Homo sapiens: one gene and its partners. The protein of the gene in region 4 purifies or fractionates together with the protein of the main gene of each other region. This does not show direct contact. Each region holds a gene or a part of one and is shown on either strand. Other genes may lie near its edges.

Region 1 (3,352 bases), on a different chromosome or scaffold from region 4:
TGGCGTCTGTCCCTTGGCCAGCATTGCCCTAGGCCAGGTGGGCGGCTGCCCCCAGGAGCACTGTGTACCAGGATGCCTGGAATTCCACCATTAGTCACTCTGTAAGGCCCACGGGAAGACTTTGGAAGAATTTGAGACGTGCTTGAGAAAGCACATTTCTCTTCCCTGAGTTGCATGAGTGCTCTGTGGTCACTGGAATGGTGGGCAGTGCGGGGCGGTCTGTGCAGTGATCAGGAACACCAAACAGTCCCAGGGTGCCATCCTTCCTTCTGGGCCACCCCGAGAGGCAGGCCTGTGACTGGGCCCTGTGCACCTAGACCAGCCCCATCCCCAGGGACCTCTCCCCTCAGGACTGATGTCTTTCCTGGAGAGAGTCACTGGGTGAAGCAGTGAGTCTGAGCCTCCTTGGCCAAGGGTCTGAGTCTGCAGGCATGTAGGGGCCGTGCCTCGCAGGAGGAGGCATCCCTGTTTGGAGATGAGGGCTCTGGGTATGTCATCTTCCTGGGACTCCTGGGTCCAGTGGGGGATTGGGTCTGGTTGGCCAAGTGCATTGAGCCCACATTTGCCCTGATCCACTTCTGGCTTTGTGGTTCCTGAGGCTCTTGTCCCAAGCCCAAGCCCAAGCCCATGCCTATGTGCCCGTCACAGGGGCTAGACGAGGCTCCTCCTCCCTCTGGCTGCCCTGAGTGGTGGGCCCCTGGGGCTGCATGGCTCCAAGGGCAGAACCCCAGGTGTCTGCAGTAGCCAGCTGTGGCCTCCCTCCTGTTGCAGAGCCCCTGCCCCTCAGCCGTGGATGCTCAGGGACAGGGCCATGGGTCACTATGTGGCTCTTATGGCTCCTTGAGGCCCAGTTCCTGAGGCCACGGTGCCATGTGTGGCCCCCGTGGGTGCTGACTGGCGGCTGCAGGCGGGGTGGCAGGTGGGCAGTGGTGAGAATGCCTTCTCCCTACAGGTTCCAGGCCCTGATTCCCTGACCCTGGGGGACGACAGCATCCGTAGCCTGGACTTTGTGTCCGAGCCGAGCCTGGACCTCCCTGACTATGGGCCAGGGGGCCTGCATGCAGCCTACCCGCCATCCCCACCGCTCAGCGCCTCTGATGCCTTCTCGGGCGCTTTGCGCTCCCTGAGCCTCAAGGCCTCGAGCCGGCGGGGCGGGGATCATGTGGCCCTGCAGCCCCTGCGCTCTGAGGGGGGGCCCCCCACGCCCCACCGTAGCATTTTTGCCCCCCATGCACTGCCCAACCGCAACGGCAGCCTGTCCTATGACAGCCTGCTCAATCCTGGCTCGCCTGGTGGCCACGCCTGCCCTGCCCACCCAGCAGTTGGCGTGGCCGGATACCACTCACCCTACCTGCATCCTGGGGCAACGGGCGACCCGCCACGGCCCCTACCCCGCAGCTTCAGCCCCGTGCTGGGCCCCCGCCCCCGGGAGCCCTCGCCTGTGCGCTACGACAACCTGTCCAGGACCATCATGGCATCCATCCAGGAGCGCAAGGACAGGGAGGAGCGTGAGCGCCTGCTGCGCTCCCAGGCCGACTCACTCTTCGGCGACTCAGGCGTCTATGACGCTCCCAGCTCCTACAGCCTGCAGCAGGCCAGTGTGCTGTCCGAGGGCCCCCGAGGTCCCGCGCTGCGCTATGGCTCCAGAGACGACCTTGTGGCTGGGCCCGGCTTCGGTGGCGCCCGCAACCCTGCCCTGCAGACGTCACTGTCCTCGCTGTCCAGCTCCGTGAGCCGTGCACCGCGGACGTCGTCCTCCTCCCTGCAGGCTGATCAGGCCAGCAGCAACGCCCCGGGGCCCCGGCCCAGCAGTGGCTCACACAGGTCACCTGCACGCCAGGGCCTGCCCTCCCCGCCCGGCACTCCCCACTCACCATCCTACGCGGGCCCCAAAGCTGTCGCCTTCATCCACACGGACCTCCCAGAGCCACCGCCCTCGCTGACCGTGCAGAGGTGGGTGCCGGGAGGTGCGGGTGGGCTTCCTGGCACAGGGCAGCTGTCCAGCCGTCTCCAGGGCCCCTCTTGGCTGGGCACTCATAGGTCATCCCAGGGGCCTGAGTTTTTCTCTGGGGACGGGACAGGGAGGATGCGCCTCACCCTGCCTTGAAGGCCTTGGCTAGCCCGTGTGGCCCAGCTCTGAGGATGTCCTGGGCACGCTCTGGGGACAGGGTATGAGAATTTGTGTCCTGAGCCCGACGACTCGTTCTTCTAGAGCTGGCACAGACCCAGCATGTGGGAGGCCATGGGGCTTTCTCTTTGGGGCCAGTATCATGTGGCAGCCTGGGCCTCCTTTAGGCTGTGGCTCTGGCTTCCTGGGTCACAGTGGCCCTGTCCACCCAGGGCTCTCCCTGGGCCTGCTTGGCTGCATCTCTAGGAGGCTGGGGCTGAGGATATTACCTAGCAGCAGAATGTGCCACCCTGAGTGGCCGGGCCCTGGCCCTCCCTGTAGGACATAGTTCTAGGAAGCAGGGGCTTCCCTGCTCGTAGGTGGGGAAGCTGAGGACTGGAGAAAGCAGGCTGGCTCCAGGCACCCGGCAGGTTGGTGACTGAGAAGGCGGGGTCAGCTGGCTCACAGGCCCAGGTCCAGGTAGGAGAGCTGCACACCTGCTGGGGCCAGGACCCACGCCACAGACGCATGGTGTCCTCACGGCATCTGTCGCCCTGTCCGGGCCTGGAAACCTCAAGCACAGGCGCAGTTGTTTCCCGTCGGCAGATGCAGCCCCAGAGGGAGAGCCCAGCCCAGCCCAGCCCAGGCCACTTGGCCACAAAGGGGCTGAGGGCACAGCAGTCCAGCCCTGAGCGGGTCTCCTCTACCCCACAGGGTGGGACCTGTTCAGCTTTTGTGGAGTTGGGGAGGAGGCTGCCACTGGGAGTGATGAGTGGGGAGCCCGAGACCTAGAAGTGGGCAGCATTGCAGCCAGGCAGGGATCGCAGCCCGGGGACAAAGGGCTCTCGCCTCAAGAAGGTTTAAGTAGCAAAGATACAGCTGCTGTTGGTCAGCGCTGGTGGGCAGGAGGGCAGCCCCTCGTTTTCCTGAGAGAGAGCAGGAATGAGGCCAGGCAGAGTGGCTGGGCTCCCAGTGCAGGGCACGGCAGGGGCTCCATTCAGTGCCCACCTGGCTGCCCCATGCTCTCTGTGGCCAGTGCTGGCTAGGAGGGACCCAGGGACTCGGGAGGGTGGTGGCAGTTCTGACAACATCTGTCTGTCCTGTGACAGCACAGCTGCTCCCCAGGCAGGCTCTGCATCCCTCACCTGCTTTCCAGGTGAACCCTCCAAGCCCAGAGGGCAGGGACTGCACGGGGCCCCACAACTCGGCTGCACTAGTCCACGTCCGCGTCGTCTCTGTCTTGCT
Region 2 (3,500 bases), about 13 Mb from region 4:
AGAATGTAAAACTAGGGGAAGAATAGAACAAAAGGAGAAAGTTTTAAACTAGAGGAGAAGTAAGAGGTAGCAGGCAGAACAAGGTCTCAAAGAAGAATACATAAATTCTCATCTTAAAGAATATTCAGGATAGGAAGAAGTAACAGCCTTAAGAGAGGAAGAGGTTAAAAAAGAATACAGATAGGCCAGGAGTGGTTGCTCACGCCTGTAATCCCAGTACTATGGGAGGCCGAGGTGGGCGGATCACCTGAGGTCAGGCGTTCGAGACCAGCCTGGCCAACATGGCAACACCTTGTCTCTACTAAAAATACAAAAGTTAGCCAGGCATGATGGCAGGCAACTGTAGTCCCAGTTACTCAGGAGACTGTGGCAGGAGAATCATTTGAACCCAGGAGGCGGAGGTTACAGTGAGCAGAGATCGGGTCACTGCACTCCAGCATGGGCGACAGAGAGAGACTCCATCTCAAGTAAAAAAAAAAGAAATACAGATATAGGCTACTGTGTATATTTACCTGTCAGGAATTAAAGGATCTGAAAACACGTTGCACATCTTTCAGTCTTTTTTTTCCTAGATGGCAAGTTTCATGTTTACTAAATTATCTCCTCCAATATCTAGGAAAGTGAGTCTGGATATATCATAGGATGTTCTCAACTTACTGAAGCAGTATACTACAGTGGATAACATAATTAGCTTTATAATCAGTTATAAGTTGCTCAGTTTCTCTAAGCTTGAGTTTCTTATTCTGTAAGACAGGGATAAAAATGATATCTACCTAGTGAGACAGTAAATATAAAACACATAATATAATGCCTGGCACATAGTAAATGCTCAGTAAAAGCTAGTTGTTACTTTTATTATTGAGTAAGAGACTTGTTGCACATTTTGAGTAATTTCAGTATATGCTTGAATTTTACCATCTCCTTCTCCAGTTAAGTAACTTACTGATCTATAAGTGTTGATAGGCTAATTTAACTAACTTTCAAAGAAAAAGAAACTGTTTTAGAAGGCAATATTTCTACTAATATCAAAGTTAAAAGTATGGACACTATTATAGAAAAGGCAGCAAAGACTTGGGTTTCATACACCATAGTCTATAAAATTAGAACCTATGATTTTATAGTGTAAAGATCAAGCCAATTTTTTTTCTTAGTTGGCCAGAAAAAGCAAACTCTCATTTCTAAAAATACTCATGATTTCTTCACAAAGAAGTCATCCTGCAACAAAATACCCTATTATTATAGAAAGCAAGAATAGGATAGTATGTCATCAATAAGACTATAAAAATGAAGCAGTGTCTGAGCCAAGGAAAAAATTTCTCTGGAAAAATAAATGAGCAGAGGTCTTTTCTCCAAATTTAATTGAGATTGAGAGTTTGTTTTGTCATCATTTATTTGATACTCCCAAGTAGGTAATAACCATTTCCTAAGAAAATTACAAATGACCTTTTAATTAAGAAAAATGCTTTATTTATTTGCTTTGTTTAGAAAAGACAACAAAATTTGTAAAAGAACCATAAATAAGGAATAAAATTTGACACGTAAGAACAGCAAATATATAGTCTTTCTAGTATTCATTTTATATTTAAATTCATTCCAGTTTTTAAAAAGCATTACAAAAGAAGTTGAAGTCAGAGTAGCCAACCCAGCCTGCCCTAACTCCTGCCACAAACTCAAGACATATATATACTATGAATTTTATGAATTTAAGGAATACATAGGCTATGAATTTGGCTTTCTATGATGCAACCATTCCATTGCGCAATCACAGGGAAAAATAGAACACAAATCAAACCAAACCAAACCAAACCAAACCACGATAGTGATGTGGTAATCTTGTAAACCTACAAACTTTATCACTGAATCAGATTTCCCTTTGCTGATGAGATTCAAAACAAGAAACAGAAAACAGGCTTTACATTTAGATCAAAAAGGACAACTTTTCTTTCTAATTAATCAAATGTATCACTGAAATTTACAAAAGGGAAGTATTCTAAAGATTGAGTATCTTTTGTTCTCAAACTCTTCATACACCACATACAAGTTATTATATATAACAAACCATGGAAAGAATGTAGTGTGTGTGTATGTATATATTTTTTATATATATAAAAAATTTAACAAATTCCAGTTTACTCCAGTTTTTAAACAGTATTACAAAAGAAGTTAAAGTCAGAGTAGCCAACTATACATTGTATGTGTATGTGTATGCACATATATATATTATATATATATATACATGCATACACACACACACTGCATTCTTTCCATGGTAAAATAAAATCAGCAATTATATAGTAGCTCAAAGCCTCTGAATAATTTAAGACTACAAAAATGACTATTCAGAAGAAATTACAGGGAAAAATTTAGGTAGGCAATGTAATTTAGTAAGAACCTTGGTTAAGAGAAAGTGAAAGAGATAAATTGTAACTTCCTATTTTATTGCTATTCTCAAGACAAAATCTCTAAAGATTTTATTTCTCATAGGAATATCATTTTAAAAAGGTATATGAAAAAACTAAATAATCTGCAAACCACAGAGACACAAATGATCACTGACAGTCAAATACAGAAGACTTTTTTTTCCTGAAGGACTGAATAAAAAGGGAATTATAACCTTGAGAAATAAAAGTTATATCAGATGGATTCCATGAATTTTATAATAGTGTGCAGCAGAGGGAAGGAAGAACACAAGAAACAAATATACTTCATATCAAAGAGTCGTTTCCTAGATGTTTTTATTCAGATTAACTGGGATAACTTTGTCCTATTAAACACTTTACTATCCGTTTAAAAGGAAGAAAGGCTGAGAATCTTTGATAACTTAACTCAATTAAAATAGTTAGAGAGTTTTATTTCTCTTTTACTTAATTCAAAACTTGAAAGTTATACCAAAATATAATAGGCAAACATGCATGCAAAATGACCCTGCAATTAAGAAAATTGCTGGGACCAAATGTTGTTTTTAAGTTCTACAGTAAAACAGTCTCCCAGACATTTAATGTCATGTCATTTGGTAAATGAAAGTTTCCTCAAAGTAAGAGCAGCAAGAAGACCTAAAAATTATGCTAGTGAAGAGTCTGACTGAAAAAAAAAACAAAAATATGGGATCACATTGGTCTAACACTAATTTTATTTGAAGTTACTACAGAACTGAATAAAATGCCGATACCAATACATAAAAATTTATTGAGCTGGCAACAAGGAAAGCATGATGTCAGCCACCAATATCACCATCCACATTCCCAAATAGCATGAAGACTTTAATTCTTGAACTGACTTCGTGCTAAAGTTACAGTAAAAATAAAAACCTGAGGCAGGAGGCATTATTAAACATAGATGAATTTAGTTTGGCACAATTTTGACTCAAATTAGCCTAGCACTTTAACAAATTCAGTCAAAAACAGAAAAATGCAAGCTTAAATGTTACAATTTTCTAAATGTGCTACATTCTTCACCAAACAGACTGATACAAGATGTCTTACGCAACTCTCGGGAATATT
Region 3 (3,500 bases), on a different chromosome or scaffold from region 4:
AACTAAGGGCCTGGGGGAGGCGGGAGGGAAGGCATTAGGAGATATACCTAATGTAAATGACGAGTTAATGCGTGCAGCACACCAACATGGCACATGTATATATATGTAACAAACCTGCGCGTTGTGCATAGGTACCCTAGAACTTAAAGTATAATAAAAAAATAAAAAATGAAATGGGGTGGGGGCCGCTACAGTGGCTCACGCCTGTAATCCCAGCACTTTGGGAGGCCGAGGCAGGCGGATCACGAGGTCAGGAGATCGAGACCATCCTAACATGGTGAAACCCCGTCTGTACTAAAAATACAAAAAAAAATTAGCTGGGCGTGGTGGTGGGCACCTGTAATCCCAGCTACTCGAGAGGCTGAGGCAGGAGAATCGCTTGAACCCGGGAGGTGGAGGTTGCGGTGAGCCGAGATCGTGCCACTGCACTCCAGCCTGGCAACAGAGCAAGACTCCTTCTAGGGGGGAAAAAAAAGGGCATTTCTTCCTATTCAATGAGAACATGAGGAAAAGGCAAAAGGCAGAGGCTGGCTGGGAGTGGGTTTGTGTGTGTAAAATTGAGTTTCAGTATAAAAAAAGATCAAGGCAGGACTGAAAGCCCTGAGGCTGGCATCGCAGCTCCAGAGCGAGGGGCAAGCGTAGGGCGAGGAGCGAGGATAGGGCGAGGGCGGGAGTAGAGCGAGGGGTAAGGCTAGGGTGAGCACAGGTGGCAGGGGACTCTGGTGGGCCTGGACTCTGGTGGGCGGGGTGACCCAGGAGCTCGGATGAAGCTCCTACGGGCTCCAGGAAGGTTCCCTCAAGTGCCTTCCCCACCCAACCCCTAGGCCCTGAACAGAGTCGAGACCCAGGAATGTCCCACGCCCCATCGCTTCACCTGTCCCAGGGAGAAATTCTGGGGTTTTTTCCACTTCAGCCCTCTCTGGGGGAAGACGTCGGGTCAGAAGCACATCTGCTCCTGAGAGCCAGCCGGGAGCACCACCATGACTCTTGCTTAGCCAAACCTGAGGGATCTGAACCTCCTCCTAGGCCCATCCGTGCATGCCCTTGTAAAATCCTTTCAGCAAATGAACCCCGCCGCCATCCCCCCCAACCCCCGCCACCCTCACATCTGATAGGCTTCTTCAGCCTCCACCATCCCCAGGTGACCTCTGATCACCCTGGCCTGCCTTCAGCAAGAATCCTGCTAGGTGGGTTTAGCCGAAAACCCCCGGACCCCTGAGGTTTGCTCTTAGTGATTTTCCATCCACTGATGGTACCTGTACCTGTCTCGATGGTCCTGAATAAAGTCTTCCTCACGGCCATTTAACAAGCTCGCCATCCCACTGTGGGGAGAGAGACACATCTGCTGTAGAAAGAGTGATACACACACAGTGGGGGGAGCCCTCAATCGGGGACAACAGCAGGCTCCCAGCATTCTCCCAGCGTTCAACCGTGTATGTCACTAAGCTCAGGTGCTTGGGCCTCATGGGGGACTCCTACACAGCAGCTCCTGCTGAGCACTTTGGTGGCTGGAATATTCTAGAAAGAGGAATAAAGTAGGAGACACGAGATCTGTGGTGCTACTTTGTAATTCGCACTGTAGGGAAAAGAAGATGCCGAAGATGCTGTAGTTAAGCCCCAAATTTATGTGCAAGCCTCTGGGTTTTTGTCTTGTTTTTCAATCCTGTCTTCTCTGTTTTGCCAAATGAGGAAATGGTGGGGAGAATTAAAGCCTCACACCTTTAACCCCTCCACTGGACTAATCCAACTGTATCATTTTATCTTCGTCCTCAGCTTTTTTGAAGAGAAAGGGAGTGCAGGCTCCGCAGTGCGAAATCGTGAAACTTATCCTTAATTTGGTGAATGGAGGGTCTGACAAGTGAGGGGCCCAGGAGCTATGACCCTGTGGGGAGACCAAGATTGGCAAGAGGGAGGCTCGGCTCGCCTCCCCTTTCCATGTGATCCCACCCAGAGCTGCCGCCTTCAGCTGGCTCTCTGTGCCCTGTGGGGCTCCCCCATCACAACCGCCTAGAGCAGCAGGGTCTCGGACAGCCCAAGCGTAAGGGACGCTTGCTGCTGCCTGGGGACAGCACCCCCTCCCCCGGTAACAGTCCCCATTTCCTCCTGGGAAATGACTCTCCCACAACATACCCAGGCCGGGTGTGAGAAGAGGGCTTCCCCTCCCTGGCTAAGCAAGGGGGATGCTCCTCTGCAACTGAATCTGGAACCGGCTGACCCCAAAGTTCCTGTGTCCCTGGGACCCACCTCTTCCTGCATGGTGTGGTCAGCAATTCCTCCATCAAGCCCCCGACAACCCTCCAGACACCCTGGTCTGCAGGGGCAAGTGGAGGCCAGAGAACGCTCCGACACAGGTCATGACCCAATTCACAGCAAGAAACAGAACCCCAACCTCACATCACCCCAACAGCACTCCTTTTGCTCTGCAATCCCCAGGTGACGTAGGTCTGTCCACCAGGGAGTGGGCACACAGGGTGGCCACGACGCTGCTCGGACACCGCAGTCATGTCCCTCTCAGTGGCCTCCAACACTCCACTGGCTGGGTGCTCCCTGGACCCCGACCCATAACAAGTGTCCCTGTGATGTAGCTGTCTGGCCCCACCCTGAGCCCAGAGCGTCCCCCGGGCAGAAGGGGCAAGAAGTCTGACCCCAGGGGCCTGGCCCCACACAGCCTTCACCCCAGCACCTCTGAGACAAGAGCTGTCGGAGTCACTGAGGGAGCGAACCCAGCCGTCAGGACTTGACCCCAGGGGATCACGGAGGGAGACTCCACATGGAAGAACAGCCTGTTCGGCTTAAAACAGACATGGCCAGATCCCCATCCCTGAGGCCCTGGCTGTGGGGCCTGCAACAAGCTGTCACCTAGCCCTGGAGATGACAGCAACACCCCCCTCACAAGGCGGCCCGAGGATTCTCCCGGATAGTCTCACCAGGTGTGGTCCAGCCCAGGACAAGAGCACACAGAGGAAAACAGCACACAGAGGACAACCAGGAGGCGCCTGGTGGTCCACTCAGCTCAGCCGGCAGAGGCTGACCCGGCTTTCCAGGAGTGCAGGGATGGATTAGTGATGCTTGCGGTGGGCCCGGGCGATGGCGACGGTGACCTGTGTTGCACATGTGCCATCTCTCAGGATTCTTCTCCTCCCTGAACCCCAGTGCACTCTCTGACCTCATCCTGGTGTCCCCTCAACACAAGAGCAAGGCCTCCTGCACCGGAAGCGTCTGGCCATGAGTGGCCTCCCGACCACCTGGACCTGTGTGGGCTACAGCTCCGCCAGGCCTCGCACAGTCCACCCTCAACCCAGCCATCCCTTGACCTGGGAGGGTCAGGGAAATCAGGGCTTCTGAGACAGAGGGGCTGGTTGCCAGCCACCCCCGAGAAAGAGATGTGACCTGAGCCCTGGGTCCCTGGATGAAGGGGCTCTGGGGGACACACGAAATCACAGATGGGAATCTGGGAGTGCCAAGCCCGTGGGAATTGCCATTTATTCCCAAAGTTGCCA
Region 4 (5,243 bases):
TATCCTTCCCCACAACCTCTGCTGTTATACAACTTTTGAAATAGTTTTCAGGGATGCATAACAAAACAAAAATTAGGTGAAACAATCTGAACTTTATTGTAAAGGTTAAATTGAACACTATAAAGCACAGCCTTAAGAATTTTGGTGGTTAGGCTACTGATGTATTTATCTTTCCAGCTGTCATCATGACTCCAACTCGAGAACTGGCTTTACAGATTACTAAAGAGTGTAAGAAGTTTTCCAAGACTTTGGGACTTAGAGTGGTCTGTGTTTACGGAGGAACAGGAATCAGTGAGCAGGTAGTTATATAAGAAACATTCATGTTTTCCATTCTTTTCTCAAGTTGGATGATTCAATAAAGTAAAAGTGACTTTTACTTTTAGTTTTTTGAATAGTGATTGCTTCTAAAATCATTTAAAAAATGAAGTATAAAAATAATAGTAAGAATTAGTTATTTTATGTAGGATGAATACCTTTGGAGATGTAATGTACAGCATGGTGACTAGTTAATGTTATATTGTGTGCTGAAAATTCGCTAAGCCAGTAGATCTCACATCATGTTTTTTTTTTTTCTTTTTTGAGATGGAGTCTCGCTCTGTCACACAGGCTGGAGTACAGTGGCGCGATCTCGGCTCACTGCAACCTCTGCCTCCCTGGTTCAAGCGATTCTCCTACCTCAGCCTCCCAAGTTGCTGGGACTACAGGTGCCTGCCACCACGCCTGGCTAATTTTTGTATTTTTAGTAGAGACGGGGTTTCACCATATTGGCCAGATTGGTCTTGAACACCTGACCTCAGGTGATCCTCCTGCCTCGGCCTCCCAAAGTGTTGGGATTACAGGTGTGAGCCACCGTGCCTGACCAATCTTACATGTTCTTACCACAAAAGAAAATATTGGTAACTATATGAGGTGATATGTTAGCTTGATTGTGTTCATCATTTCAGAGTGTATATGTATATCAAACATGTTGTACACCTTAAATATATATAATTTTTGTTAATTATGACCCAATATAGTTGTGGCAAAAAAGAACATACTATGTTAATGCTAGATTAGAATTTTTGAATCTTTTTACATAGATTATCCCTCCTCCCTCTTCCCCTGCCTGAGAAAGCAGATTTTTTTTTTCATTTTACATATGAGGAAATATTCAGAAAGATTTATTAAGTTGACCAATTAGGTTAATACGTTCTAGAGTTTGTCCTGGAACCTAGGTCTCTGATCTCTGAGCATTTGTTTCTCTAATCTATGCTGACATCTTTAAAAAGTGATGGTGGCCAGGCACGGTGGCTCATGCCTGTAATCCCAGCGCTTTGAGAGGCCGAAGCGGGTGGATCATGAGGTCAGGAGCTCAAGACCAGCCTAGCCAACATGGCGAGACTCCCCGTCTCTACTGAAAACACAGAAATTAGCCTGGCTTGGTGGCGCCTGCCTGTAATATCAGCTACTCGGTAGGCTGAGGCAGGAGAATCACTTGAACCTGGGAGGCGGAGGTTGCAGTAAGCTGAGATCACGCCACTGCACTCCAGCCTGGGAGACAGAGCAAGACTCCATCTTGGGGGGTGGCGGAAGTGATGGTGATTACTGGGATGCATTAATATCAGAGGTGTTTTGTTGTTGTTGTTGTTGTTGTTTTTTGGTTTTGTTTTATTGGAGACAGCATCTTACTCTGTTGCCCGGGCTGGAGTGCAGTGGTGTGACCTTGGCTCACTGCATCCTTGACCTCCTGGGCTTAAGCCGTCCTCCCTCTTGAGCCTCCTGAGTATCTGGGACCACAGACGCATGCTACCACACCCGGCTAGTTTTTGTATTTTTTTGTAGAGACGAGGTTTTGCCATGTTGCCCAGGCTGGTCTTGAATTCCTGGGCTCAAGCAATCTGCTTGCCTTGGCTTCCCTTTGTAACACCTCCGAAAGGTATAGACGTGAGCCACTGTGACCAGCCCTTCAGCTGTCTTCTAAAGAATGAAATAGTTTTCAGATATTTTGCTTAACTAGAAGAAGGCAAAAAAGTAGGTTCTGTGATTGGATAAGTTTTGGAAATGTTGGAGTATAAAAAGTTAAAACCACTTTCTTTCCTGTAAGACTTCTTTGTTCTTAATAAGCTAATGTATATTGTGTTGCTAGATAAATGGGATAAATTAAGTGACGTTTTCTGAACTTAACTACAAAACTGTTTCTTAGGACTATTGTTACAAGAACACACTTCAAGAATATTTGCTTTTGTTAACTCCAGTGCTATTTTAATTACTTCAAATTACTTCATTTTCTAAGTTTATCTTTATGATTTTTCATGACTGTAGTTTGTAGAAATACACTTACAAAATAACATGGTACATGCCTGCACGTTGTATTTATATAAATGCCAAACAAAAGTTTTATGATGTTAAGGGACTTCTGGTATTTTCCATTCCATTTCATTTAAAAAATGCTGGTTGTGGTTGAACACTATGGCTCATACCTGTAATCATCACAGCATTTTGGGAGGCTGAAATGGAAGAATCACTTGAGTCCAGGAGTTTGTGACCAGCCTGGGCAATGTAGTGAGACCCCATCTCTTAAAACAGTAAATAAATTAGCGAGTGCCTGTAGTCCTAGATACTGGGAGGGTGTGTGGGGTGGTGGGGGGAGGGGCTGAGATGGGAGGGTCACTTGAGCCCAGGATCTAGGCTGCAATGACCTATGATGACACTGCTGCACTGGGCAACAGAGCCTGGGCAACAGAGTGAGACCCTGTCTCAAAAAAAAAAAAAAAAAAAGCTGATTATGACTGTTAAAGTGATTTCATGATTCACTAATGTGGCAACCCTCAATTTGAAAAACACTAGTCTATGTGGTCACTTAGAAATTTCTTTTTCTGAGGCAGGGTCTTGCTCTTGCTCAGGCTGGAGTGCAAGGATGTGATCATAGCTCACTCCAACCTTGAACTCCTGGGCTCAAGAGATTATCACTTTTTTTTTTTAAACTGCTTTCTTAAGTTCATTTCTTGGTTTTGAGGGATAGTGGCAAATCAAATTTGCAGAATTCTCTAGTTCTTATTTGTTTCAAATTTATGGCACTATGTGGTCACGTTGTTGCTATTTCTTTAGTAGTGCCCCGAGATTCAAAATAATTAAGCAGGAAGCTTGGAAGTCTTCTAATTAGACTAGGCAAGAACTAAATGCAGTATTTTTTAGTGTTTAAGTAAGCATTAGTAATAGACTATAAAGTTTCATCTTTTTTATTAGATTGCTGAGCTGAAAAGAGGTGCTGAAATTATTGTTTGCACACCTGGTCGAATGATTGACATGTTAGCCGCTAACAGTGGTAAGTCAGGGGTATTTTTTTGGTGTCTTTTATTTTTGAATTCTTTACTTTTTTTTGTTAAAACAGATGCAAGAAACCAACAAAGGGTTTCTATATTTCTTCTTAAAGCTGCAGTATCTTAAAATTTGTAGCCTGTAGTCCCAGCTACTTGGGAGGCTGAGGCAGGAGAATAGCTTGAACCCGGGAGGCGGAGCTTGCAGTGAGCCAAGATCGCACCACTGTACTCCAGCCTGGGTGACAGAGTAAGACTCCGTCTCAAAAAAAAAAAATAATAATTGTAACAAGTTGATTATTACAAGCATTAATGATATTTTTGCAATTTAAAATTTTTTTTCAGAAGTAACTCCATCTGATCATAACTTGGATTCTTAATCCAGTTTTGGCCTGGCTTTGCTTAGTAAAAGAGTGGGGTAGTAGCTTTTTCTTTATTACAAAATTTAGACTTTTTCTCCACATGAGCTAGTATTTTCTTAGATACTACATAAATTAAGATATTGCAGCTTCAAGAAATTTTATCTTTTGTAAATATTGCATGTTTGTAGCTCAAATGTTATGCTTTGTTAAATTATTCCCTATCAAAACTCTTACTAAACTGTTGACATTATTTAACTTCTGTGGAGAAAGGCCCTTCAAGATTTATAGAACTGGGCTTCCGAGACTTAAACCATCAAAGGTAGGTAATTTAATGCTGTTCCCGACCTTGCAAAACTAATTGGGGCTACAAATGCTAGTGTGGAATACTTAAATATTAGATAGCACTTATTTTGGCACTTTTTATTTTTTGAAGAAAATGCTCTCAGAGGTTTCCATTGCAATATTTAGTGTGTACATAATAGAGTATTAAAAACTGAGTTAGTGCATGTTTCTAGTAGTATTCTGCTTGAATTTCTAATTCTAATTGTACATGAAGTTGGCAAAGTGACATCGAAATTGAGAAGTCATTGTGCTTGTCTAGCATATGGAAAGTTTTGGTTTGAATGCTGATTAAATAATCCCTTTTTTTTTTTCTCAATGCTGCATTGATTAAGTCTCCTCCTGAAATTCATCTTGATTAATTTTACCTTTTTCTCTTATCTGTCATTGTGGTCTATTTTTAAATAACTATTTTATACGTGTTTTTGCCAGGTGATTGATTCAACAGTTGATAGCAATGCTTCTGTTAATATTTTAGAAGGAATTTCCTATGTATGTATTTTGTTTTCACTGGTTAGGAAGCCAGTTGCATTTATTTAAGTCAGTGGGTTCACTTAATAAAATTGGGATTTATATCTTTGTATGGAAAATGTATTTATGTAATGTGTTTTGGTATTTAAAGTTTTTGTGTGATACTTTAATTTCCTAATGCTGTCAAATAGCTTCTCATTAAGGGTTTGACATGCCCATTTAAGAAGCTTCTAAATATATGGAAGTAGGTTATAAAATAATATAGAGAGACATTTTCTGTGTCTAAAATAGTTAGCACTAGAACTTGCTTTCCACACATACGCTGTAATCTCTAATATGTTTTTTTCTAGGTGATGCTGTCAGATAATGGCTGATGTGGCTCGATGCTTCATCTCAGTCTTAGTTTTATGATGTGTTTTGGAGAGGGCTGTTTTCTGAATTTTACAGGTTCTTCAGGCCCTATGATGGTATGCAAGAGACGAGTTTGACAAAATAAAGGGCCTCATATACCCATTGTCAGAAAGTATTTGCCACTAGATTAAGACATTGTAGATCAAAATTTCTTTTCACTTTTTAAAGATACCTAACTTACCCCTCTGGTTAAGTCAGGCATTTTAGTTTCCTTTACAGTTTTTAAAAGTTCTTGGTAGCCATAAAATGAATTGTGACTGATTTTTAGTTTTCTTTTTGTCTTTATTTTTCTTTTCATCTTAGGTCGGGTCACAAATCTTCGAAGAGTGACATATGTTGTTTTAGATGAAGCAGACAGAATGTT

The links.
Region 1: the proteins of DDX46 (region 4) and ZDHHC8 fractionate together in Homo sapiens (co-fractionation; one large-scale study listed by BioGRID). This does not show direct contact.
Region 2: the proteins of DDX46 (region 4) and SRFBP1 purify together in Homo sapiens (co-immunoprecipitation; one large-scale study listed by IntAct). This does not show direct contact.
Region 3: the proteins of DDX46 (region 4) and EPN1 fractionate together in Homo sapiens (co-fractionation; one large-scale study listed by BioGRID). This does not show direct contact.

What each region holds. Positions count from the first base shown.
Region 1 is NC_000022.11:20,141,804-20,145,155, forward strand, and holds part of ZDHHC8 (palmitoyltransferase ZDHHC8), read left to right. Parts: intron 1-952; coding exon 953-1,953; intron 1,954-3,352. UniProt on the Homo sapiens protein: Palmitoyltransferase that catalyzes the addition of palmitate onto various protein substrates and therefore functions in several unrelated biological processes.
Region 2 is NC_000005.10:121,975,475-121,978,974, reverse strand, and holds part of SRFBP1 (serum response factor-binding protein 1), read right to left. Parts: intron 1-3,500. UniProt on the Homo sapiens protein: May be involved in regulating transcriptional activation of cardiac genes during the aging process. May play a role in biosynthesis and/or processing of SLC2A4 in adipose cells.
Region 3 is NC_000019.10:55,695,726-55,699,225, reverse strand, and holds part of EPN1 (epsin-1), read right to left. Parts: 3' UTR 1-3,500. UniProt on the Homo sapiens protein: Binds to membranes enriched in phosphatidylinositol 4,5-bisphosphate (PtdIns(4,5)P2). Modifies membrane curvature and facilitates the formation of clathrin-coated invaginations. Regulates receptor-mediated endocytosis.
Region 4 is NC_000005.10:134,785,288-134,790,530, forward strand, and holds part of DDX46 (probable ATP-dependent RNA helicase DDX46), read left to right. Parts: intron 1-177; coding exon 178-299; intron 300-3,225; coding exon 3,226-3,304; intron 3,305-3,928; coding exon of another isoform or gene 3,929-3,981; exon of another isoform or gene 3,982-4,327; intron 4,328-4,818; exon of another isoform or gene 4,819-4,935; intron 4,936-5,182; coding exon 5,183-5,243. UniProt on the Homo sapiens protein: Component of the 17S U2 SnRNP complex of the spliceosome, a large ribonucleoprotein complex that removes introns from transcribed pre-mRNAs.